Linked DNA regions of Homo sapiens: regions 2 and 3 are each linked to region 1. Evidence: fine-mapped QTL for protein levels in blood plasma. A gene starts in region 1. Each other region holds a variant in brackets. All regions are shown on one strand. Distances are between the middles of the regions.

Region 1 (8,407 bases):
TTGAACCATATTAGAGGATTTTTAAGGCTCATTTTGTAGCTGACCTTCCCTGAGTCAGCCAGAGCCCATCACTGCCTGGGGAGGGTTATGATGGATCCTAGAACAATGTTCGACTTTGACCCCCAAAGTAAGCTCTGGAAGCCCATGGTGAGACAATAACACCCAAAGTCAGGCATTGTGGAGAAGAAACAGGGGCTTTTAAAATTCCCCAAATTCCCTTCTGCATAGCAAGAGCAAAGCCAGCTCAGCTTAGAACATATTTTTATCCTAAGTGATAGGAGCTGGGGGTGTTGGTGGAAGGGAGGGAGAATGCAAGGGAAGGTCCCTGCTGTTAGAAGAAGGAAGAGCTCCCCACTACAGGAGGGTGGAAAAAGAGGTTCAGAGAGGGCAAGGTTGAGAGGTAAGATACTGTCTGAGTTCTTCCAGGGCTCACAGCCCTGTGTGGATGGGCTGGGAATGGTGGGAAGAGCATGGAGATAGACATCCCCTCTCTGGGGGTCCACTGTGGGGTAGAGATGGGGTCATGGTGAGTAAGCAGAAAAAGAGTGAGACTCCAGGGTCTGCTTGTGATATGGAAAGATCCAGAAGCTCCTCAGCTAATGGCAGCTGAGGGGCTTGGCTGTCAAAGTGGGCAATGGGGTGGCAAAGTGACAAACTTTCCCTTCTTCCCTGCTCTCCACTGGGAAGGAGAGGCTGGGAGCAAGTCTTGGACCTCTGGAGCCTTTGTACACCTGTGGTGTCTAGCACTGTGCTTTTCCACAGGTTGCTTTCTGTTGGGTAGGACCCCTACCCACAAGGGCCATGTTGCATGGTATGGGCCTTCTCCTTTTCCACACCACAATACACCCACATCAAGAGCATACTGACTTCAAGACAGCCCCGATGGTAAACAAACAAACAAAACAACAACCCTGAGTTCTTATTATGATCAAGAGTTTGGGCCAGGGCTTTGCGGGAGGGACTAGGAAAGTCTTCACTCATTTGGGGCCCTGGCATGTATGTCTCCTCTGATTCTTCAATGTACTTCCTCTAAACTTCTCTTGAGAACTTGAGTTTGAAAGTTATATCTCTGTGTCCTTAGATCCTGAATAGTCAATATCTTGAGTGCTACTGCTGCTGCTGATGATGTTGGAGAAGACAACCTCCTTGAGTGCTTAATACATGCCTGGCACTTTCTAAGCATTAATCTTTGTGATAACTCTAAGTTCTATTATTACCCCCACTTTGTAGGTGAGGAAACTGAGGCACAGAGCCATGGAGTAACTTGCCAAGAGCACAGAGCCCTAACCGGCAGGGGCTAGGCCAATCCCAGGCAGTGAAACTCCAGGGCCTCCACCCTTACGCTGTGTCTGATCTCACTTTGTGTCTTTATGGGGCCTGGCAGATAACAGGTGCTCAGCAAAGATTATGCTTCTAAGAATCATCACCCTTCCTACAGATAGGTTATGACTGTAAAGCTCTGGTCAATGGATCTCTCTCTTTGGACTTGATTACTTTTTTTTTAGGCTTTCCTGTTAGTTTTGTCTACCCCATCACGCTGTCCAGCCTGCAGCTGGAGCTCTGGGAGAGTAGATGCTCTGAGGTCTCACCCTCAACTTGGCCTCTGACAGGTTCCCTGCCCAGCCAAACTGCCATCACCAGTAGACAAGCTTCCTGGTAATCCTCACATTGAATTCATGTGATGCATGGATGAGGTATCAACATCAGTCCTGTCCTGGAGCCTGAGGAGTGAACCCAATGATCCCTGAGACCCTTCTAGTCTTCAAAGTCCACACTGACCAGAGTGGTTTTAAAATATTCATCATCTTCTTTAACTAGTCTCAGAAAATAATACTCCAAAATATGAACATTCCCACTTTCAGGCCCATGCACACTCTACACACTTTTCCAGGGCCAGTTCAAATGATATCTCCTCCTCCAGGAAGCCTTCCTTGCTTATCTGGCTGAAATTGAACTTCTCTTGTTTGAACACCCAGCCCTTGGTTTCCCCAAGCCATTCACTCCCTGGTGCCTCTGTTTAGCTTTCCCTGGCCTTGGCTTATTCTCAGTTACAGGCAGGACCCAGATTGCACACACGCTAGGGCCCCACCCCCAGCTCCTTGCAAGCAGATGTCATTGTTCCAACATTGATTGATATGTTTAATGAATCCCATATTTCAAGAATGCAACTGACCAGACATAACTCAGGAGTGGTTTTCGCCATATAAGCGGAGCTCTGAGTCACAAATCCTGTGTCTTCAGAGGTCCTTTAATGTCATTCTCTGCCCCCTCCTCCTTGAGTAGCAACAACATTAACAACCATTGATTAAAGCCTACTGTGCACCCAGCCCTGTGTTAAGGGCCTTTCTTACAGTGCCTTAGTGCATCCTGACAACTTTACAGGACACGGAATTTGTGTCTCCATTCTTCACATAAGGAAACCTGTTGGAAAGGTCGCATAACCAGTCCAAGATTGAACAGCTAGCAGGGTGCAGAGCCAGAAGTGGAAGCCAGGTCTGATTCCAAAGCCATTGCTCTTAGCTTCCTGAGGTCCAGGCTGTCCCTAGCCCCTAAGGCAGCCACTCCTTCCCAAGGTTCTGATGCAGCCACCTATCTGGAGTCACACAGGAGTGCGTCTCTTTTCTTGTGGCTGGATCTCCTAGTGATATGAGGACAGTTCCTGGAGAAGATTCTCCCCTCCTGTCTAAACACACCTAAATGGGCTTGGCCTCCTCCCGCAGCTGGCTTCTAGTTGCATATTGGCCTGGTGGCAGTTCTTCCCCTGCTCTCCCTTCCAAGCCCCCACAACTCAATGTATCAATGATTGTTTTAAACTGTGACTCTAGGATTCCACTAGCCAGAGGCCCTTTCAACCATGGGCCCTCTGAGAAGCTCCTCTGTAGGCCGACAGGAGGGTGGACTTGCTTCGCGTGGTACCCGGGGACTGGGGCAAGCGGCTGCGGGATAGGGGTCTCCACCTGAGCTCCCTGAGGGCACCTCTCCCACTACCACCGCATCTGACCCCCACTACTGGCCCCAGCTCGGGCCTGGAGCCCACGCAGAAGGGGAGGCAAGGTTGAGCGCCCACACCCGGCCAGTAACCGAGGCGCTGGCCCTTGCCGGAGCACTTGGCCGTCTTCCGCAGAACAGCATCACTGGCAGCCGCCCCGCGTGGAGGGTGGAGCCGGGGAGCCCGGTGTGGGACGGCCGGGGCCAGGGTACCCTAGGGCGGAGAGCTCAGGGCTGGCTTCCCGCTCCCAGCCGCGCGCCCCTCGGGCCGGAGGTTCCTGCCGCGCCCCGACACCTGGAGTGCATTAGGCGGCGGCGCGCGTCTAGGCGACGGCGGCTTTCCCCAGATTATTGAATAATTGCATAATTCCGAGCGCGGGTTGGGAGGCAATGCCGGGTCCCTACCCCGGGTGTCAGGTAACGTTTCGGGGGTCCTGCGCTGCGCGACTGTGTCCCGCCGCTGCTGGCCGGGCAGACGAGAGCTAGCCCCCGCCTACCGGCCATCGCCCCGGGGCTTTGCTCTGTCTTTGGCCGGAGGCACTCTGCGCAGCCCTCACCCCCACCCTTCAGCCCTCCGGGGCCGCCGCGCCCGGCTCTCCAAACTTTGAGATGCTTCCCCGGAGCCAGGCAGGAGGGCAGCCAGGGCACACTCTCTTGGCGCTGATTCCCTTCCCCAGCCGGGGCCGTGCGCCCTCGGCGCTCCCGGGACACCCGAGTGCCCCTGGCAGCCGTGCGGGAACCCCGGCATGGGCCTTGGAGGCACCTAAGGCGCCCAGGAGGGCCACCAGATCTGGGAGCTTTTCAACTCAAGCCTCTTCAACTCTTCCCAAACACACCAAAGAGTCCCGGCTTTCAATAGCCTTCGCACCTCCCTCTTTAGCGAAACTTGACTGAACCGCTAGACTGGGGCCAGTCCCTGGGGGACCCACGTCCCCAAGAGCAGCTGAGGTCTGACCCTGGGAGGAGGGTCGCGTCCCGATCCTGGCCGCTGGATCCAAGCCCCGAGGGCCCAGGGAGGGACTCCGAGAGGCAAGGGGAGGCAGAGGGTGGGCACCTACCTGGCCACAGGCTGAGCGCCCAGGCCACCACCAGGCCCCTGGGCAGGTCCATGGCCCGCGGCACGGCGGCTGGGTCCGGTGTGCAGCGGCGGCGGGGGGCGGCAAGCCAGAGCGGCAGCCTCCTCGGCGCGGCGCCTGCAGCCTGCACTGCGCGGGGCGCCGGGCTCCCTGACAGCTGCGGCTCATTCAGAGGAAGTGGGAGGGCTCGAGCGGAGGGGAGGGGCGCCGGACACCACTCCGGCTCGGGCTCTGGGCCAGTCTCGGCCGCTCTGCCACCTGGGCAGGCGGCGCGCTGCCTCGACGCGCCTGTGCAGCGCTCCTTCTCCGCCAACCCCACGTCAGCCTCTGGAGAAAACTCCAGAGAACCGCTCCTGGGAACCCCCTCACCAGTGTAGCACCGCACCGCCTCAGTCAGATTCTGTTCAGGAAAAGTGGTTTTTATTCCCATTTCCCAGTGAAAAGAGATTCACAAAACTCAGAGGGTACCCAAGCTGGCTCAGGAACACCTGCTGGAACGCAGGTCTCCCTTGGCCAAGTGAGTGGATGTCCCTCAAAGGTCCATTCTAAGACATCCCCGTGTCTCCCTGCACCCTGCGGCTTGAATTGTAGAGGCTAGTGTTTCTTCTGACCCTGGAATACATGCAGATTCGCCTCCACTGCCACTCCCTGAGCCTCCACACCTGAGGCATTCCAAAGCACCCAGGGACACCGTGCACCCCCTCTTAACCTAACGTGAAGCTCTTCTTTGTAACCCTGCCACCTTCTTTCCCTCTTCTAATCACTGGTAGTTAAATTCAATGCACATTTATCTCAAGAGCTTTAAATCCAGGCCCCGGACCTCCACCGCGCTTGTGGAGGCTTTTCCAGCAATGGAGGAAGCCGAGGCAGAGGGTAGGAAGGCCAAGATGCAGGGAAAGCCACAGCAGAGCGCCCTTCCCCCACTTTCTCAGGAAAGGCTTCCTTCACCCCCTCTTCCCGTCCCCACCAGGTTGAGTCCCAGACACATGCTGATATTCCCCAGCCCGCTCTCCCTCATTTCTCTTCATTGTGCTTAGTAGAGAAGCAAGGCATCAATTGGTGTGATCATTTAACTTTTCTCTCCTGTGCAGACTGAAAACACCATCAGGGTAGAAATCTCTGGTTCACAATGGAGTACTCAGCCCCTAACACCCAGGAACAAAGTAGGTGGGCGGGTGGATGGATGGGTGAGTACAGGTGGTGTGTGGGTGCACAAAGGATAGAGTTTTCTATCTGGGAGGTATTGGAAGGGCTTCCCAGAGGAGGTGATGTTCAGTCAGGGCCCCTGAAGATGAGCTGGAGTTTGAGAAGACCCAGGTTCACATAAGTGAAGTGGGCTTGTGCTCGTCTCCCAACCTCACTATCTTTCGGTTGGCTATCTGGGTTTTACTTCATCTTCACCTCACCCATTCAGCCACAGACTCGGGGAAGGTGATTCCGTCCCTGGTGTGTGTGTGTGTGTGTGTGTGTGTGTAAGGAGGCATGCGGTTCAGGCTGAAATGAATCAGTATGTTGCCCTTCCCAGCCCATCGTTTCAGAAAGGGCAATATGACAAAAGAAAAAGTTTTTTTGGGAAGCAAGCTTTCTTGCCTTTCTAAAAGAGCCCCTAGAACAAACAAACAAATGAACTAACTCTCTCTCCTCACCTCTCCCACTCCTGCCTCCTCTCCCAGCCTGGGACAAGGAACTTTGTAGGCTCAGAAGTTGACAGGGTCAGGGTAGGGAAGGAGGATCTGGCCTTGAGATGAGGTGGACACTGGATGACAGAATGGAGGATCTTGTTGAACTCCTGAATGAAGCCACCCCTTAACCCCACTCCCCTTGGGACTTATCAGTTATACGACAGTGAGTCCTCTTCACTGAGTTGAGTTTAAGCCAGCTGAGTTGAATGTAGAACACCCCTACAGCTAGGGAATGGGCTGCAGCCCACATTCCTGCCTTGCACAAATCTCCAGGTGCATCAGAACGACCTGGAGCACGTGCAAAGAATGCAAATTCCCCAAGGATCAGGGCATGCTGGTGGGTGCCCCAGGCACCTCTGACGTGTGGGTGGTCTGCAGCTTGTGCTCAGAGTCTGCATGCTGCTTGCTGAAGGGGCGCACTGTAGTGGCTGTCCTAGCTGCGCTGCTGCTGGTCTCGCTGGTAACAATTCTACCATTCATTCACCTTCACCGTCCTCACAGGTGCCTGGGGAATGGGGGTCCTGAGGATCACTCTGTGTGCTTTTGTGTAATGTGGGAGGGTGAGGGGAGAGGTGTGCCCTCATTTGTTCTTTCAACAGATCCTACAGAGTGCCTACTGTGCCCCTGTGCTCTGTAGGACACACGGAAGGAGAACCCCACACTAGGGCAGCTGGTGATGGAGCTGAGGAGACAAGACATAACCATGTATTTATTTAATCATAATCTGTTATTTATTAATCTATTTAAAACCATTTATTATTTCATCACTATTAAACATTATTTAAATCACACCCAAGGCAGCAGCATATGAGTGACAAGTGCACAATCCAGACTCTAAGGCTGGAGAACTGCAGAGAATTTGGTGAAGGGCTTTATGAAAGCTGTGATTTCTGTTGAATAATAATAATAACTCTTTACATGTACACAGTGTTTTAACTGATTTATTTATTCACATGCCATAAACTGTGCCATAGAATCCAGTAGTTGTTAGTATATTCACAAGATTGTAAAATCATCCTCACTAATTTCACAATATTTTTATCACCCCAAAAAGAAGCCCTGTAACCATGAGCAGTCACTCCCCATTCCTTCCCACCAGTCCCTGGCAACCACAAATCTATTTCTATGGATTTGCCTATTCTGGACGTTGCATATAAATGAAATCATATAATACGTGACCTTTTGAGTCTGGCTTCTTTCCCTTAGCATGATGTTTCCAAGGTTCATCCATGTTGCAACATGTATCAGTATTTCATTCCTTTTTATTGCCAAGTAACATTCCATTGTATGGATCTACCCCCTTTTGTTTATCCATTCATCAGGTGAGGCTTATTTAGGTGTTTCCACTTTAGGTTATTGTGAATAATGTGGCTATGAACACTTGTGCTGCCGGTCTTGCTGGTAGCAGTTCTACCATCCATTAACATAGCATAATGTTAGCATAATGTTCATACAAGTTTTTGTATGAATGTATGTTTTCAGTTCTCTTGGGTATACACCTAGGAGTGGAATTGCTGATCATATAGTAATTTTATGTTTAATCATTTGAGGAACTGCCAAACTATTTTCCACAGTTGCTACATCATTTTAGATTCCTACCAACAATGTACAAGTGCTATGTATAGTGTTTTACTATTTTTGAAATCCCTTTCATATCCATGATCTAATTTAATACTCATCTTGTACAAAATTGTATTTATTTTTTATAGTAAAGAGATTGTATAGTTGAAGATTCTTTCACTTGCAAGTGACAGAAATTCAACACAATCAAACTGAAGCAGAAAATAGAATGTAAAAGGTCATGTAACTAGGAAGTGCAAAGGTGTTCTGTCTGCAGGTGTGGCTGGATCAAGGGTCTCAAATCAATGTTACTGCTCTCTCTCTGTCTTCTCTTAGTTTTGCTTCACTCCATTTTCCTTTCCTGCAGCAGAAGAGTTTCTCTGACTGTCTAGCAGTCCCAAGCTTATACTTCATAGATTCTGAAGGGAGAGAGACAGCCTTCCTTTAGTAGATCCAGCAGAAAAGTCTAGGGCTTTGGTTCATGCCCACCCCTGAACCAGTCCTAGTGTCTGGAGGATATGGTGCTATAATTAGCTCAGTTTGGGACACACACCCAGCCCCATGACTTGGGAAGAGAAAGGCGCCATGACTGACAGCCCCATCAAAACCACATATTACAGGAGAGGACTTTCCTAAAGGAACCAGAAAAAGTGGGATGGCAAAGTATACTGGACAGACAAATCCATGGTTACTAAAAAATCTAAGCTCAAAGTAGCAATAGATTCACGCAAGATTCCACATCATCTATGAGGCAGAACTGAGATTGGAACCCAGCATTCTGAAAGCAGATTGAGTATTAATCCCAACATCCCAACTGGGTGGAGGGAGCGGGTATTTCAGGCCAAGACTGCATGAGCATGGTCAGCTCAGAGACAGGTCCTATTGGCAACTTCTGTGGCTCCCAAGATTTCAGTCTGAGCATGCTCCTCTGGGAGGACCTTGGCTTCTCTATGGAGGGAGAACGAGCAGTGGTCTGGAGTACTGATGACAGAGGCCTTGGCTCAGTTAGGACCAATGCTTTTTTTTTTTTTTTTTTTTTGAGATGGAGTCTTGCTCTGTCACCCAGGCTGGAGTGCAGTGGTGCAATCTCAGCTCACTGCA
Region 2 (8,407 bases), 71 kb before region 1:
GCTCTCAGCCAACAGCCAACAACAACTGACAGCCACGTGAGAACCTTCAGATGACAACAGCCCAAGGTGACACCAGACTGCAACTACCTGAGAGGACCCAAGAGAAAACCGACCAGCTGAGCCCAGTCAAACTCCAGAATTTTGAGGAATTAAGAAATTATTGTCTCAAGGTACTAAATTTTGTGGTAGTGTGTTACAAGGCAATAGATAACTACAATAGCATCTGAGATCTAAAAAAATTTTTTTTGTTCTACTTTTTTTTTACCGTGCAAATTCAATGCCAAATGCCGTCCGGGTCTCTGTTCCTCCTCTCTGCTCAATGTGGCTGGCAGCTTCCACCACATCTTTTACAGACCTGTAGTCGTTGAGGTGAAACTCATGCACCACATCTTCGCCATACTGCACAACTCCAACCTGCAAGGGAGAGGAGAGGGCAACAGAACATTTTGACCCCATGAACCCATGAACCTTAGAATTTGAGAGTGAGGATCCCCGGGAGTTGTCTCTGTGTGATAATACAGGAGGGAGGAGGGCTGAGGACCTTTCCAAGAAAGTAACCACAGCCAAAGGGAAGTGAGTTCTGCAAAGTTCTAGGAATGAATGGACAGCTTGGTGGCACAAGAAGGGGTGCATATAGAGAATGGAGACTTCGTGATTGAAAGAAAGGCCCAACAATTATGCTTCTTTCTTAGGAAAACAAAAGCAGAGCAGAGAATCAGTCTAAGTCCAAAAAATTATGAATAGTGTGGGTGGAAGGTCACAGTGTTTACCAAACTCCAAAACTGAGGTTCCTTAAAACTTGTAAGAGGTTCTTTTATCCCCATGGATGATAAAATAATGACAATATTAATAGCATCAAAATAAACAAAAAGCTTCAAGACCTATAGTAGGAATAGAACCATGAAACGTTCCTGTTGGAGGAGCCCACAGGGTTTATTTGGCACACGTGCCCTTCTAATGCTGGACTTTCACCCATGATACCCTAAAAGATGATCTTCTGGTGATGGGGAACTCATTACTTCATGAGAAAGTCCACTCCCTTTTTAACAGCCCTAATCGTTACAAATAATTTCTTAGATTGACTTGAAATCTGCCATCTAATAACTTCTAGTCATTAGTCCTCACTCAGGCAGAATAAAAGGGAATGAATCTACCTCCGCGTTAGCCAGGCAGCGTTTCAGATATATGAGCCTAGCAGCCCTTACCTCTCCTACCATCTTCCCTCCATGACCTGTATGTCTAATTCTCCCCTGTGCCCCACTCGACAGGGCTCTAGATTCCACTCAACCATTCCCACCTTCCTTGTCACTTTTTAGCTTGTCTAAGTCTTCACAGGTGGTGTCTTGTGTCTGACCCGTGAAGTGAGGCTTCCCCCAAAATGTCATTTGATGTGCTACACCAGAGAGGAGTGTCCTGAGCTGCAGTGCCCCAGTGCTGGCTGGCCCTACTACCTCTGCCCTCTTACCTACACCTCCTTCGTGCATGCAAAGATCTCTCTTAGACCTAAGGCAGCACCTGCCATGGGTTTGGGTGGCCCTGTTCAGAAGTGGAAAGAGCCCAAGAGATGCTCACCTGGATCTGCCCTGGGCCAATGTAAAACTTTTTCAGGATGTTGATGAGGAAGTGCTGAACCTCCACCCAGGGGTAGATGCTGTTGGAGCCATCCAGGACAATGACGATGTCCATGTAGGTCTGGCACCCTGGAAAGTGGGGACACAGTTATGGCTACCCAAGGAGCAGTGTCTGCGAGTCTCTGATTCTCTGGACAATTGTTCAAAGGACAAATGAATGACTCTGCTCCATATGTGTAATTCCCTGGGCTGGGAAACTGTCCTTGGGTTGGACATTTATTTGGGCAATGTGAGTGAGCCCAGGAATTCCTGGCTGTGTTCTACCACTCTGCTGGCTGTTTGAACAAAGCTTAAATTAAGCCTGATCACTTCTATTCCTAATCAGAGACTGACCACTACCAATCGGCCAACGCTTCCGAGGCAGCCAGCACTGCTCAAATCAGTACCTTGGTATTGTTTGTTTTGCTGTAATGAGCAGGCTGGCATTTACCACTTTCAGCCCAAATGAATGGATTTCTGTTTTTAGGAGGGAGATATGATGTCGTGGCTAGAAATGTGGGATGTGGCATCACACTGACTCCTGGCTTTGGCACTCCCTAGCTATGTGACCTAGGGTCAGTCACAAAACCTCTCAGCCTCAGTTTTCTCTTCTGTAAAAGAGGCACAACAATAGTAAAGAGTTGCCTAGAGTAATTAATGAGAAGATGCTTCTAAAGGGCTGAGCACAAAGCAAATGCTCAATAAATCTGAACTGATCATGGTTTCACTTTTTATTTATTTATTTATTTTTTAAGGAAACCACTGAGTTAATATGGTACTGATATCATCAGGTCAAGCTCTCGTGCCATTATCTCTGCCTCTGAATATAAAGGTTTCTTTATGCTTTTGTAATATTAATACTAAATTAGGCTGGGAGTCATGGCTCACACCCATAATCCCAGCACTTTGGGAGTCCGAAGTGGGTAGATCACCTGAGATCAGGAGTTCGAGACCAGCCTTGCCAACATGGCGAAACCCCGTCTCTACTAAAAATACAAAAATTAGCCAGGAGTCGTGATGCACACCTGTAATCCCAGCTACTCGGGAGGCTGAAGCATGAGAATTGCTTGAACCCAGGAGGCAGAGGTTGCAGTGAGCCAAGATCGGGCCACTACACTCCAGCCTGGGTGACAGAGTGAGACTCTGCCTCAAAAACAAACAAAACAAAACAAACAAATAAAAAAAAAACTAAATTAAAAGGAATAATGAAAATCAACAAAGAAAATTAAGAAAATATTGGCCATAACAAATATTAAAAAAACCCTCCTCTTTTAAAATCTAAGTAATTTATTTCTGTTTGTCAACAGTTGGAGTTACTTTGAAATAATGCATACACTCTGCGTCTGGGCATTGCTCATTTTTATTGGTGACTTTTTATGCTGTTATAAAATCTACTTTATAACAATGCTGCATGAACCTTTTGTGTGTTAACTGTTCCAGTAATTCTTGCATTTCGAAGAGGCACTATGTTGAAGTCAGTGCTGAGCAGACAGAGGAAGGTGGGGGTGGCTTTGAGTTGGGACGCCTGTTGCAGGCTTTGTGTTTAGTAGAGCATTTTAGAAGCATTTGGGCAACTTGAGTGCTCCGCCACTTCTTGTCCCACCTGCATACTGTGTACAGCATGTGATGACCTGACACTCCTGGCCTGGCAGAGCCTCATACATTTGTCCTTTTCTGGTTTAGTTCGGCTCCACACATGTGGACTGAGCACCTGCTATGTGCTGGAGCTCTGCATGGTGCAGGCAGCAGTGGGGGTGACCAAGACAGAAATTCCTTGATTTGGAGGAGTTCATAATCTTTTAACAGGTTATTTTTATTTTTATTTTTAAGCCAGCTTTATTATTATAATGCATTTATTATTGTTGATTTCTTTCTTACAATTTCACATTTTTCTTTCTAAGATACCTTGGGAACAAACTGGTTTGAGGGCTACGGTTCCTAAACATGGCTGAACACTCCCTTGGGGAGCTTAAAAACACACACACTCACACGCACGCATGCACACACACACACTTGCACATACTCCTACTGAATTAGGACCCACATGGGGTGCCCTGGAATCTGCATTTGGTAAGCTTCAGAGCAATGCTGCTGGTCAGCCAGGTGAGGAGGCCTCCACCACATGAGGTTCAGGGACCATAGGATGGTCACATCTAGGCCTGGAGGGACTAGCTCTAGGGGTGGTGACATTCCCCGGTGGGCCCCTCACGTACCCTGACCTCAGGCCTCCTCCTGTGCCCTGGCTCTGCCATTTCCTCTGTCATTTTGTGTGAATAGAATCCATGTCTCATTATCCCCCAGAAAGACGACCTTTCTGCCCCTGCTGGACTGATGCTTCCTCCTCCTCCCTTCCCCAGCCCCATCTGACTCGGCCTTGTTGTCTGGAGGGCGGCTGCAGGCAAGCCAGAGGTGCCAATTCCCGAACCCTCCATAAAACGGGCAGCAGCTGCTTGGGTGATGGTATTTAGTGCAGAGGAAATAGTGAGGCTCAGAGCCAAGAAGTCTGGGCTTGTGGGAGGCAGGGTCTGAGCAGTAATTCCCCAGGTTTTCTTCGCAGGTGGGCAATGAGCAAGAGGTTTTACGTTCCATGAGGCTCTGGACGAGCTGGACAGAACTCCCTGCTGTCCAGGAGCACTGATTTGGTGGAACTACTACCAAGGAGATTTCTGTTCTCCCTGTTCCTTCATCTACAAGGCTACTGCATTGCACAACATCAGGGGGCGCCATTCATATGTCTAAGTGAACAATTCCCCCAGAATTGTGCAGTGCACAGCTTGTCTGCTGCATGTGCTTGCCAGGTAACCTCCTATATACCCAGGGTTTCTGCAGTGAGCCTCCCTTGAGGCTGGGATTGTCTTTGAAACCTTAGCTCATTTGCTCTCCACCATCACACTTGGGAGAGGGAGGCCAGGATTATGACTCCCACAGAGGCCCAGAGAGTGGAGTGATACATTCCAGGTCATCCGGAGAGCTGGGGCAGGACAGTGCTAGAGTCCAAATACTGCTTTCTAGCCACAGGTTGTTGTGCTCAGGGCCCAAGTCTCTCTGGACTGTCCACTGCTCAGCTTGAGGTTGCAGATTTGAAGCCACTTACTTTGGAGAGCTGGGGCCA[C/T]GGTCTTGGAGAACCTGAAGTTGGAGTTGACTCTTGAACACATCCCTGTGGTGTAGTAGGAGCTCCCACACTCATGAGACCAGAGGGGGCTGCAGGCCTGGGGAGGGCAGTGCAGATCCCCAGTCAGTGAGGGGACCTCAGAGAGGATCGAGGTCCAATGGCCTGAGGCCCACTCCCATCCTCCACGACCCAAGACAGACTTCTATCTGAGGGGTGAGGGGGTGAGGGATCTTCTTTGGGTCTAACTGAACTCTCTCTTGCTGCAATGTGTACTAGTTCCTTTGGTTTCAGGTCTAATGGAGAAAAACTGATCTTGGAGTCTCTTTCATTGTTTTTTCAAGGCCCTGTTCTCCATCTCATCATTTAGGAATATGATACTTCTTCACCCTACCTGCCCACCCCACTCACCCACCCACCATACGGGATCTGGGGAAGCCTTTTCACCCACGGGTGTGAACACTTCAAGGGTCACTAGAATAACTCCTCTGTCTGAGAGGTCGCCTGAAGGGCCTTACTGGGCAAACTTCTAGGACTGGGTCCCAAAAACATGCCATGGCTCATACTGGGGCAGGGGAAGATAAGAATGTCTGTATTCTTTCTGTGAAATGTTCTACCAAAAACACTGATGTCAGTCCCCATTGAAGGACTGAGTGAAGGGTTCTTCTCAGAGTCATTGTCATTAAAAATGAAAGCTCAGCTCCATGCTTCCATTGTTATCCTGCTATCAGGAAACCCAGAGCTAAATTTTGTGCTGTAATTTCCTTTGGTTTAGGGGAGTAATTATTCTACTTCCGATCCCTTTCTTTAATTACTTTCTTTTTAAGCTCAGATCTTAAAGGTTATGTTTTATCTGTGTACTTTGTTGAAGCTGCTGTACATAATGTTTGGAAGTGGCAGGGGACAGAGGGGAATAAAGAATGGATAGATGGATGGATGGATAAGTGGATGGATAGACAGATGATAGATGGATGGATAAGTGGGTGGTAGATGGATGGATGAATGATGTATAGATGGATGGATGAATGATGTATAGATGGATGATGAATGGATGGATGGATAAATGGATGGAAGATGGATGGAAGGATGATGGATAGATGTGAATGGATGGACAGATAGATGAATGGATAATGGATGGATGATGGATAGTGGACAGATGATGGATGAATGGATGATGAATGAATGGGTGAATGAATGATGGCTGGATAGATGATGGATGAATTAGTGGATGGATGATGGATGGATAGATGATCCATGTATGAATGGGTGGATGAATGATAATGGATGGATGATAGATGGTTGATGGATGAATGGGTGGATGGATGATGGATGAATGGATGATGGATGAATGGATGATGGATGAATAAGTGGATGAATGACAGATGGATGATGGATGGTTGATGGATGGATGGATGATGAATTGATGGGTGGATGAATGATAGATGATGGAGGTTGATGGATGGATGCAGGAAGGAATAAATGGAAAGATGGATGATTACATGGGAGATTGATGGTGGATCGATGTATAGACAGATGGGTAGATGAATGCATGGGTGGTTGGATAGATGAATGGAGGAATGAATTGTTGAGAGGGGAATGGACAGATGAGTGAATCAATGAACAGGTGACTATCTATAAACCAAGGATTAACCTACTCACAGAGGCCCCAGAGAATATATCACACCATTCCTCTCAGACCTTCATACCACCTTGTGAAGAAGAAATGTGATAAGGAGCCTGAGAGGGAAAAGGGAGTAGAGACAAAGCCCCTGACGGATATGTGTGTGGATAGGGCCAGGGGTCCTGCTTTGCCTCTGGTTATGGCTAATAAAGGGCTGTGGGCTGAATATACATCAAGGCACCTCATGACTTTCCCTGGCAGGGCCACTATGCACTCAAGTCCCCTTGCATCCCAGTCATCGTCTTATCTTTATGTCTTATTTGTCTTATCTAATTTGTCTTGTGATTCATGCCCCAGATGTCTCATTTGTCAGCAGAAATAGACCAGAACAAAGACTGACACAAGCACCCCATCTAAAAATGGGCAGTAATTTGTACTGGGCTTTCTGGGGTAAATTTTCTCTGAAGTCCTCTCCTGCAACTGTTTCTAGGAACCATCAGTCTCAGAAGGATCCTGTTTGAACCCCAAGCATCGCCCATACTCAACGCAGCTCACTCCAAGGTGGTGGCAAGGAGCAGGCAGTGCCAATCCATTGTGCCGCCCACACTCACTACCATGTGCAGAGTCCATATGTGCTCACCTGGGCACAGAACAGAGACCTGTAAGCAGAGCCTGCTGCTGTCTGTCCCCCAAAGTCCTATTAGACATTACTCGTTTGCTTGTCGCCTCTCTTTCCACCACAGTGTAAGCTCCAGCAGGACAGGGTCTCTATTCATTGCTGAATCCCGGTGCCCAGCACTGGGCTTAGCACATACTATGGTAAGTGCTCAGAAACATCATTGTTTAAATGAATGAATGTTTCTACCACCTCAACCCAGACATGCCCTTTTCTTCCTTGCGAAGGCCTGTCTCTTCTTTAAAAACAAAACAGAAACCTCCTCCAGCCTTCTTCATCTAATCCTGGATAGTTGAGACGGCTTGTCACTCTGTAGCCCTTCCCTCGGCTGTGGTAGTCTGTGTTTACTCATTTATGGCATCCCTTCCAAGTCTTCTTTGGGTGTGTGGTGCAGCCTGCTTCTTTTTTCAAGCCTAGAGCAGAGATTTGACCTCCAGCCCAGACAACTAGCTCCCCAAGGAAAGGGACAGTCCCCCACCAGACTTGTTGGCTATCTACATTTATTCTTGTCCCCTTTCTGGCTGTTCCTCCCTCCTTCGGGATATGCACACAAAAGGGCTCAATTGTTTCTTCTGCCTGGACTGTCCCTGCCAAAACACCCAGGGCCCTGCCACCCGGAATGGCATAAGCAGGGAGCTGGCGGGGGAGCTGCTTCCTGGAATGCACAGGGCCAGGCAGCTTGGTGGTTGGAGTGGGGGAGAGTGGGTGTACAGGATGGACATGAGGGTGTGTAAGGAGACGCTCCACCCCTCCCCACCCCCACCCCTGCCTCTCCTGACCCCAAGCAGTGGCAGGTGGCTCTTACCAGGAAGCTGTTGTCCTTGGGGTTGGTGGCGAGACTAAGGCCGAGGCGCATGTTGTCTTTCCGCTCGGACACGTTGGACAGGGTGACCCTTCCTGGGGTTGGGGGAGAAGTTCAGCTTGCAGCCCCCTCCTGCCCGCCCTCTGCCCAGAGCCTGCTGCTGGTCTGGTCACCCGAGGTGCCTCCCCGATTCTCCCTGACCCTGGGGACCTCTGGCTCTCAGGGTTTACAAAGGCCTTCCCCAGACGTACTCTCAGGACATCCTCACAACTGCCTGTGAGATGAGAAAACCGAGTCTCAGAGAGGCCAAACAACCTGCCCAAGGTCACACAGTGAGCACTCACCGAGCCTTCTATCTCCTAGCCCACAGCTTTTCCTCCTCCAGCCATCCGACTGGAGCCCCACTTCCCCGTGTGCCCCCAAGCATGCCATGGCATCCCACCTGGGCTGGCTTCCTTTGTGCAGTATCCCCGCTACGCTTTCTTCCAAGTTGACCCCCATCCACACTTAACCAGTCCTGTGCCCAACTCTTTCTGTGCCCACTTCTCTGCTCATCTGAACAATCAACATGTGACAGCTGAGAGTTTCC
Region 3 (8,000 bases), 330 kb before region 1:
CCTATGCTACCTCCTAGAGGAGTAAATAACATTTTCCACTTCTGACATTTGTGGGGTTTTTTAATCAATTCTGAATTTTATTTTTGTTTACATGAGTATAGGGCTCTAATTTTATTTTTTTCCCAAAACTTCCTTTGAATATTATTCTAGATCTTACTCTGTTCCACTGGTCTAATTGTATACTTTTCTGCTAACATGGAATTATTGTATAGTTGACCCTTGAACAACAAGGGGATTGGGATGCCACCTTTGCAACACACACAGTCAAAAATTCACATGTAACTTTTGACTCCTCCAAAACTTTACTATAACCTATTGTTTACCAGAAGCCTTACCAATAACATAAACAGTTGATTAACACGTATTTTGTATATGTATGTATTGTGTACTGTATTCTTACAGCAAAGTAAGCTAGAGAAAAGAAACTGTTACTAAGAAAATCATAAGGAAAGAAAATATATTTACTATTAAGTGGATCATTATAAAGGTTTTCATACTTGTTATGTTTGCATTAAGTAGGCTAAAGGGGAGGAGTAATAGGAGGATTTTCATCTTGCTGTCTAAGAGGTGACAGAGGTGGAAGAAAATCTGTGTATAAATGGACCCACACAGTTAAAATCTGTGTTGTTCAAGGGTCAATTGTACTTAATTTTTTGATTGTTTTTAAATTTTTAAATAGATAATACATTGATGTACAAAACTCAAAAGTTACAAAAGGGTTTGCAATGAAAAGGAAGTCCCTCTTTCACCCTTATTTCAGTCACAGGTGTTGCTTTCAGTTCTTTTTATATTTTTACTGGGGTAGCTGCTGCACCTACAAACAAACATATTTGCCTCATTCTTTTTTAGCAGCTACTTAGTAGGCAATAGATTCGTTGGATTCTGTGTTATTAAATATTCCCCTGTTGGTCAACATTTGGGTAGTTTCTTGCTGTTGAAAACATTGCTGTAGAGAATATTCTGTGATATATATCACTATGCACTTGTCTAAATATAGCCAGTAGTTTTATAATTCCTAGAAATAGAAAGTGCATCTAAATATTTTTTGTAGATGTTGCCAAATTTCCCTCTAGAGAAAGGTGTGTTTGCTAATTTATAATCTTACAGGCTCTGTAAGAGACTGTTTTTTCCTCCTGTGCCTTCAACGATACCATGTGTTATTAAACTTTTTGATCATTCCAAATTAACAGCGAAAATTTATAACTCATTATAGTTTTAACTTGCACTTCTCTTATGGGTGAGGGTGAAGTTTGTTGTTGTTGTTGTTGTTGTTTTTAAAAATATATTTTTTAAATTATAAAAGCACATCGTTATTTATTTATGAGCGGAGTTTTACTCTCGTCACTCAGGCTGGGTGACTATATATGTATATATATTTCTTTTTTTTTTTTTTACTCTTCAAAGTTCCTTGAGCTTTTTATTTTGAAATTTGGTGGTTGGGCTTTTTACCCTTTTTTATAGACTTAAGAAATTTAGCACTTTGTGATATAAGTTGTGACTACTTTTTCCATTGTGATTGTCTTTTGAGTTTTTTTTATGATTGGTGTTGCACATTAGCCATCAGTTCTTTTTTATTGCTAAGTAATGATTCATGGTATGGATATATCACAATTTCTCTAACTATTCGAATTATTTAAGAGCATTTTGGTTGTTTACAGTTTCTGGCTATCATAAATAATGTTATCCTGAGTATTCATGTACAGGTGCTTGTATGGACATAAGTTTTCTTTTCTCCAAATACATGCCCAGGAATGGAATTGCTGGGTCATATGTGTAAGTATATGGGTTTTTGGGGGTTTTTTTTTTGGGAGAAAATACCAAGTTGTCTTCCTGAGTGGCTGTACCACTTTCTGTTTCTTCTGGTATTGTATGAGAGGTCCAGTTTTTCTCTGTCTTTGCCAGCATATTTGTTATTGTCACTTTTTTTATTTTTAGATGTTTAAGTATGTATGTAGCGATAACTCATTTTGGTTTTAATTTACATTTTCCTAATGACTAATGATGTTGAACATCTTTCCACATACTTATTTGCCATCTGTCGACATACTTATACTCTTTGGTGAAATGTCTGTGCATATTTTTCTCATTCTTTAATTGAATTACTTGTTTTTATATTATTGACTTTTGAGAGTTCCTTTGCATATTGTAGATACTAGTTTTAGTCAGAGATGTAGTTTGCAAATGTTTTCTTCCAGTCTGTAGCTTGTATTTCTTCGGGAAAAAAAAAAAAAAAACACCTTTTGATCTTGAAATAATTACAGATTTGTAGGAAGTTGAGAAATGTATAGGAACATCCTGTGTACTCTTAACCTAGCCTTCTCCATTGTTAACATCTTTCTTAATATAGTGCAGTATCCAAACTAGGACATAACATTGGTACAATACACAGAGCTTTTCAGATTTTATTAGTTGTATTTGCAGTCATGTGTATTTGTAGCTCTGTGCAGATTTATCACATGTAACTACCACCACAATAAAAGATACCTAACTGTCCTGTCACCCACAAGACTCCCTCTTGCTAACTTTTTGATAACCTCACCCACTCTCTCTAGCCCCAGTGGTTCATCCAAGTTGCTGTGTATATCACTAGTTTGTTCCTTTTAAGGGGCGGGGAGGGGGGCGCTGAGAAGTATTCTATCATATAATGTAGTTTCATTTGTTTAAACATTTACCAGCTGAAGAACATTAGTGTAGTTTTCTGTGTTTGGCTGTTAATGAATAAAATTACTATGAATATTCATATACAATTTCCTGTGCAAAAATAAATTTTTATATCTCTGGTAAATGCCCAAGGGTTATCAGTTGCTGGGCTGTATGGTAGTTTTAGTTTTAGTTTTAAAAGGTCTGCAAAATTATTTTCCAGACTGACTGTATCATTTTACATTCCTAGCAGCCATGAATGAATGATCCAGTGTTTCTGCATCCTTGTCAGCATTTGATGCTATCACTATTTTTTAGTTTTGCCATTTTGATAGGAGTATAGTGATATCTCATTGTGTTTTGTTGTTGTTTTTGTTTTGTTTTTTTTTTTTTGAGATAAGGTCTCGCTCTGTCACCCAGGGTGGAGGGCAGTGGCATGATCATGGTTCCCTGCAGCCTCAACCTCCCTGGCTCAGGTGATCCTCCCGCCTCTCAAGCCTCCCAGGTAGTCAGGACTACAGGCACACGCCACCACACCTGGCTAATTCTTTGTATTTTCTGTAGAGACAGGGTTTCACCATGTTGGCCAGGCTGGTCTCAAACTCCTGGAGTCAAGTGATCTTCTCCCCTCAACCTCCCAAAGTGCTAGGATTACAGGTGTGAGCCACCGTGGCTGGCCTTCATGGTGGTTTTAGTTTGCATTTCCCTAATAGCTAATGATGTTGAACATCCTTTTATTTGTTTATTTGCCATCTGAATATCCTCTTCAGTGAAATATCTTTTTATGTCTTTTGTCTTTTCTAATTGCAGTGTTTTTTTTTTTTTTTTAACTTATGAGTTTTCAGAGTTCTTTCTAGATTCTAGATTCTAGTCCTTCGTTGGGTTTGTGGTTTGCAGATCTTTTCTCCTGTGGTGTAACTTGTCTTTTTTTTTGTTTGTTTCCTTGTTTGTTTTTGACATGGGATCTCACTGTGTTGCTCAGGCTGCAGTGCAGTGGCTGTTCACAAGAGTGATTATAGTTTACCTTAATCTCAAATTCCTGGGCTCGAGCAGCCCTCCTGCCTCAGCCTCCTGAGTAGCTGGGACTACAGATGCATGCCACTGCGCCTGGCTTGTCTTCTTAATAGGATCTTTTTACATAGAACAAAATGTTTAATTTTGAGGAAGTCTCATTTACTGATTTGTTTCTTTGTTAGATTTGTGTTTTAGGTTTCTAGTCTAACAACCCCACTTGCACACCCACCCCACTTTTTTGACTTGCTCTGTCACCCAGGCTGGAATGCAGTGGCATGTGATCATAGCTCACTGCAGCCTTGAACTGCTGGGCTCAGGCAATCCTCCTGCCTCAGCCTTCTGAGTAGTTGAGACTACAGGTGTGTGCCATCGCGCCCAACTAATTTATTTTTTACTTTTTGTAGAGACGGGATCTGGTCTCATACTCCTGGCCTCAAGTGATCCTCCCACCCCAGCCTACCAAAACACTGAGATTATGGGCGTGAGCCACAGTGCCTAGCCAAGTCAAAAACCTCTCTGCCTGACTTTAGATTTGGAGATTTTTTTTTCCTCGAAAGTTTTTATTTTTACATTTTACATTTAAATCTGTGATCCATTTGTTACTACTTTTTATAAGGTGTGAGATTGAGATTGAGCTTCATTTATGGAGATCTAACTGTTCTTAGACCCCTGTTGCAAAGGCCGTCCTCCTCCATTGAATTACTTTTGCATCTTTATCAACAATCATTGTCTGTACCTATGTGGGTCTCTTTCTGGGTCCTCTGTTCTGTTCCATTGATCAGTGTTTCTGTCTCCCACCATTACCACATGGTCTTGATTACTATGTCAGACTATGTAATAAGTCATAAAATTAGGTAGAGTAATTGCTTTTACTTTGTTTAAATATTCTTCTAGTTCTTTTGCCTTTCCACACAAATTTTAGAATTATCTTCTCGCTCTACAAATAGTCTTGCTGGGATTTTGATAGGAATTGCATTAAACCTGCATATCAATTTAGGGATGATTAATAATTTTTCTATTTTGAGCCTTCCAGTATATGAACATGGTATGTTGCCATTTGTTTAGATCTTTTTTAAAATTTTATTCATCAGCATTTTATAGTTTTCAGTATATA[G/A]TTCCCACACTTGTTTTGTTAGACCTGTACTTAAATATTTTGTTTTTTTCTGAGTGATTATATCTTGTGACCTTGCTGAGTTCACTTATAGTTCTAGGAAGTTTTTTGTAAATTTGAGGGGTATTTCTTCATAGACTACCTTGTTTTCTGCAAACAGGGACAGTTTTTATTTCTTAACCATCTGCCTGCTGCCTTCCATTTATTTACTTTGCCTTATTGCTTTATGGCTCTAATAGAGTGTTGAATAATAGTGGTGACAGTGAACATCCTTCTTTGATTTTTATTTCTTTTTTTTTTGAGACAGGGTCTCATTCTGTTGCCCAGGCTGGAGTATAGTAGCACAGTCTCGGCTCACTGCAACATCCGCCTCCTGGACTCAAGTGATCTTCCTGCCTCAGCCTTCTGAGTAGCTGGGACTATAGGTGCGCACCACCACACCCAGATAATTTTCGTATTTTAGTAGAGATGGGGTTTCACTATGTTGGCTAGGCTGGTCTCGAACTCCTGGCCTCAAGTGATCTGCCCGCCTCGCCCACCCAAAGAGCTAGGATTACAGGTGTGAGCCACTCTGCCTGACCCTTCTTTGATTTTGATCTTAGGGGGAAAGCTTCAAGATAAAATGATATTTTTTTTTCTGTGTTTAGGCTTTTGCCCTTGAATCTACCATGTTTTGTATTATTATCCTTTTTTTTTTTTTAAGCTTTTCGTTAGCATTTGTCTGACATAAACTTTGTTCTTTTGTTTTCAACCTTTTGTGGTGTTTATTTTTGGGTTCTTTTTGATTTTTTGTTTTAAAATAGCTTTATTGACATATAATTCATATACCACAAAATATATTCCTTTAAAGTGTACAATTCATTGGTTTTACTATATCCACAGAGTTGTGCAGCCACCATCACTATCAATTTTAGAACATTTTCATCACCCAGAAAAGAGCCTCTCTACCCATTATCAATCACTCTTTAGTGCCACCTCTCCCATCCCCTGAAACTACTAATACGGCATCTGTCTTTATAGATTTTCCTGTTTTGGACATCTCATATGAATGGAATCGTATGGTATATGACCTTCCGTGACTGGCTGTTTTCATTTAGAATGATGTTTTCAAGTTCATAAAGTTGTATGTGCCGAAACTTTGTTCTTTTTAATGGCCAAGTAATATTCCGTTATATGGATATACCACATTTTGTTTATACATTCATCAGTTGATGGGCATCTGAGTTGTTTCCACTTTTTGGCTAATATGAATATTCGTGTATAATTTTTTGTGTGGAAATATGTTTTCAATTCTTTTGGTTAAATACCTAGAACTAGAAATGCTGGCTCATATGGTAACTTTGTTTAACCTTTGAAGAACTGCCAGACTGTTTTCTAAAGCAGCTGTACCATTTATATTCCCACCAGTGATTTATGAGGATTCGCATTTCTCTCCACATCCTTACCAACACTTGTTATTATATGCCTTTTTTAATATAGTCATCCTAGTGGGTGTGAAGTGACATCTCATTGTAGTAGATTTCTCTCTTACAAATAGCACGTACCTGGCTTTTTAAAAACTCAGTCTTAAAATTTAACTTACTCTCATTTTATGCTAACGTTGTTACATTTGGTCTTTGTTCTGCCATCTTAATTTGTTGTCTGTCATTTTTTTCTGACCTCTGTGATATGAATTATACTTTGTTTCTCTTTTATTTTCTAATGGTTTGGGAGTTCTGCCTTCTATTTCTGTAGGTAGTTACTATTGAAATTTTACCCAACACATTTAAGCCTAAATTTTACTACCAACATCAACAACTTTTAAGAGTAATTACTGTGTCTTGCCTCTTCTCCTCTTCACTAATTTATTCTATCAGACATGTATTCATAGTTGTTTCTTCAAAATTCATATTAACCACAGAGAGACAAATATTTCGTGTTCTCACTTATATGTGGGAGCTAAAAACAATTGATCTCATGGAGGTAGTGATGATGGTGGTTACCAGAGGGAGACTGTAGTTAATAAGAATTTATTATGTATTTCAAAATAGCCAGAAGAGAAGATATGATGTGTTCCTAGCACAAAGAAATGATAAATGTTTGAGGTGATGGATATCCTAGTTACCCTAATTTAATCATTGCACATTGTATGCATGTACAAAAATACATATTCCATAAATATGTACAGCAATTATGTAACAAAGTTTACATAAGGGTCTCTGACAGAAGAAGCATTTTCCCACATTGCATAGTGACAGCCAAAATCTTAATAGGTACAATAATTAAAGTTATGAAAGAATTGCTATTGAATGAAGAAAATATTTGTCTTTAGTGCTTTACTTTAGATTATTTTGAGAGGACTATAGTGTATAGCTAAGAAGCAATCATTCAACTCAGGGTAGGTGGGTTAGGTTTAAGAAAATCTGATGACTCCATTGAGAATTGTATTAAAGCTCAGCCAAGAGAGCTGAGCTGTAACAATATTTAATTTGCCACATTGCAGTTTCATCCATCTAGAAGTGTAGGAAATTCAGGTTTTCAGGTTCACTCAGGATATGAATTGTTAACTTCCTCTTAGCAGAGATAATATATTACTATTTACCAGATAATCTTAATACTCTAACTTATATTTTTACTTCAGAAGTTTTTCTAGAATTTATCTAGGTTACTTTTAGATAAGTAAATCAGGCCATTTGTTTGTATTTATTATTGGTATATTTCTGTATAATTTCCTTATGCCTGTGTAGATCGTGGAGTTCTTTTGAAGTCAATTTCAAGTCAAGATTATATTTATGTACATGATTTTTTTCTCATATTTCTCACTTTCCCACCATATGATCTAGGTTTGCTACATCAGAATTGGAGAGTGACATTTAACTTAGTGTTTCCGGAATAAAGAATCTGGAGCTTTTACTACCCCATAAGTAATCTATTTTAGCCTTTCTAAGTCTGCAGCTTCCTTTCACTTTGCTTTCCAATCTAGCATTTCACCTCTAGTTTTACCCCAGTTATGCTTTATAGATTAAACCTCTGAAATGTGTTTAATCTGTATGAAATGAAATTATAGCTGGGCACAGTGGTGCACACCTGTAGTCCCAGCTACTTGGGAGGCTGAGCATGAGAGTCGGTTGAGCCCAGGAGTTCCAAACCAGCCTGGGCAACATAGCAAAACGCCATCTCTAAAAAAAATTTTTTTTAAATAAATAACTAACAGTAACCTTAAAATGAAATTATGGTTCTTAATGATAGTGGCTTG

Alleles and levels. Alleles are on the strand shown, and positions count from the first base shown. The strength of an association depends on the size of the effect and on how common the allele is.
As copies of C replace T in region 2, the plasma level of the protein whose gene starts at base 4,195 in region 1 goes up (moderate association).
In carriers of allele G in region 3, the plasma level of the protein whose gene starts at base 4,195 in region 1 tends to be higher than with A alone (moderate association).

Evidence for each region. PIP is the posterior inclusion probability: the model's chance that the variant is causal. Protein levels are from antibody-based Olink assays in UK Biobank. Linkage for the fine-mapping came from a reference panel and not from the study's own genotypes, which makes the PIPs less certain.
Region 2: its variant is fine-mapped to the plasma level of the ITGA11 protein (UK Biobank, PIP above 0.99). The variant lies in the coding sequence of ITGA11. If it changes the protein, the assay may bind it differently, which can mimic a change of level.
Region 3: its variant is fine-mapped to the plasma level of the ITGA11 protein (UK Biobank, PIP above 0.99).

What each region holds. Positions count from the first base shown.
Region 1 is chr15:68,427,969-68,436,375 of GRCh38, forward strand. It overlaps ITGA11 (integrin subunit alpha 11), which reads right to left and starts at 4,195. Exons shown (of 30, transcript NM_001004439.2): 1 at 4,047-4,195. The coding sequence starts at 4,098. RefSeq lists an enhancer at 2,596-3,355 and a silencer at 5,902-6,196.
Region 2 is chr15:68,356,886-68,365,292 of GRCh38, forward strand. ITGA11 (integrin subunit alpha 11) reads right to left here. Exons shown (of 30, transcript NM_001004439.2): 4 at 7,822-7,913; 5 at 4,705-4,819; 6 at 1,573-1,700; 7 at 266-414. Among named protein-coding and RNA genes, the nearest start is that of ITGA11, 71 kb to the right of the region's middle. RefSeq lists an enhancer at 7,904-8,407. The variant C/T (reference allele first, on the strand shown) is at 4,723.
Region 3 is chr15:68,097,881-68,105,880 of GRCh38, forward strand. The region is part of intron 2 of PIAS1 (protein inhibitor of activated STAT 1); the gene reads left to right. Among named protein-coding and RNA genes, the nearest start is that of PIAS1, 48 kb to the left of the region's middle. The variant G/A (reference allele first, on the strand shown) is at 4,769.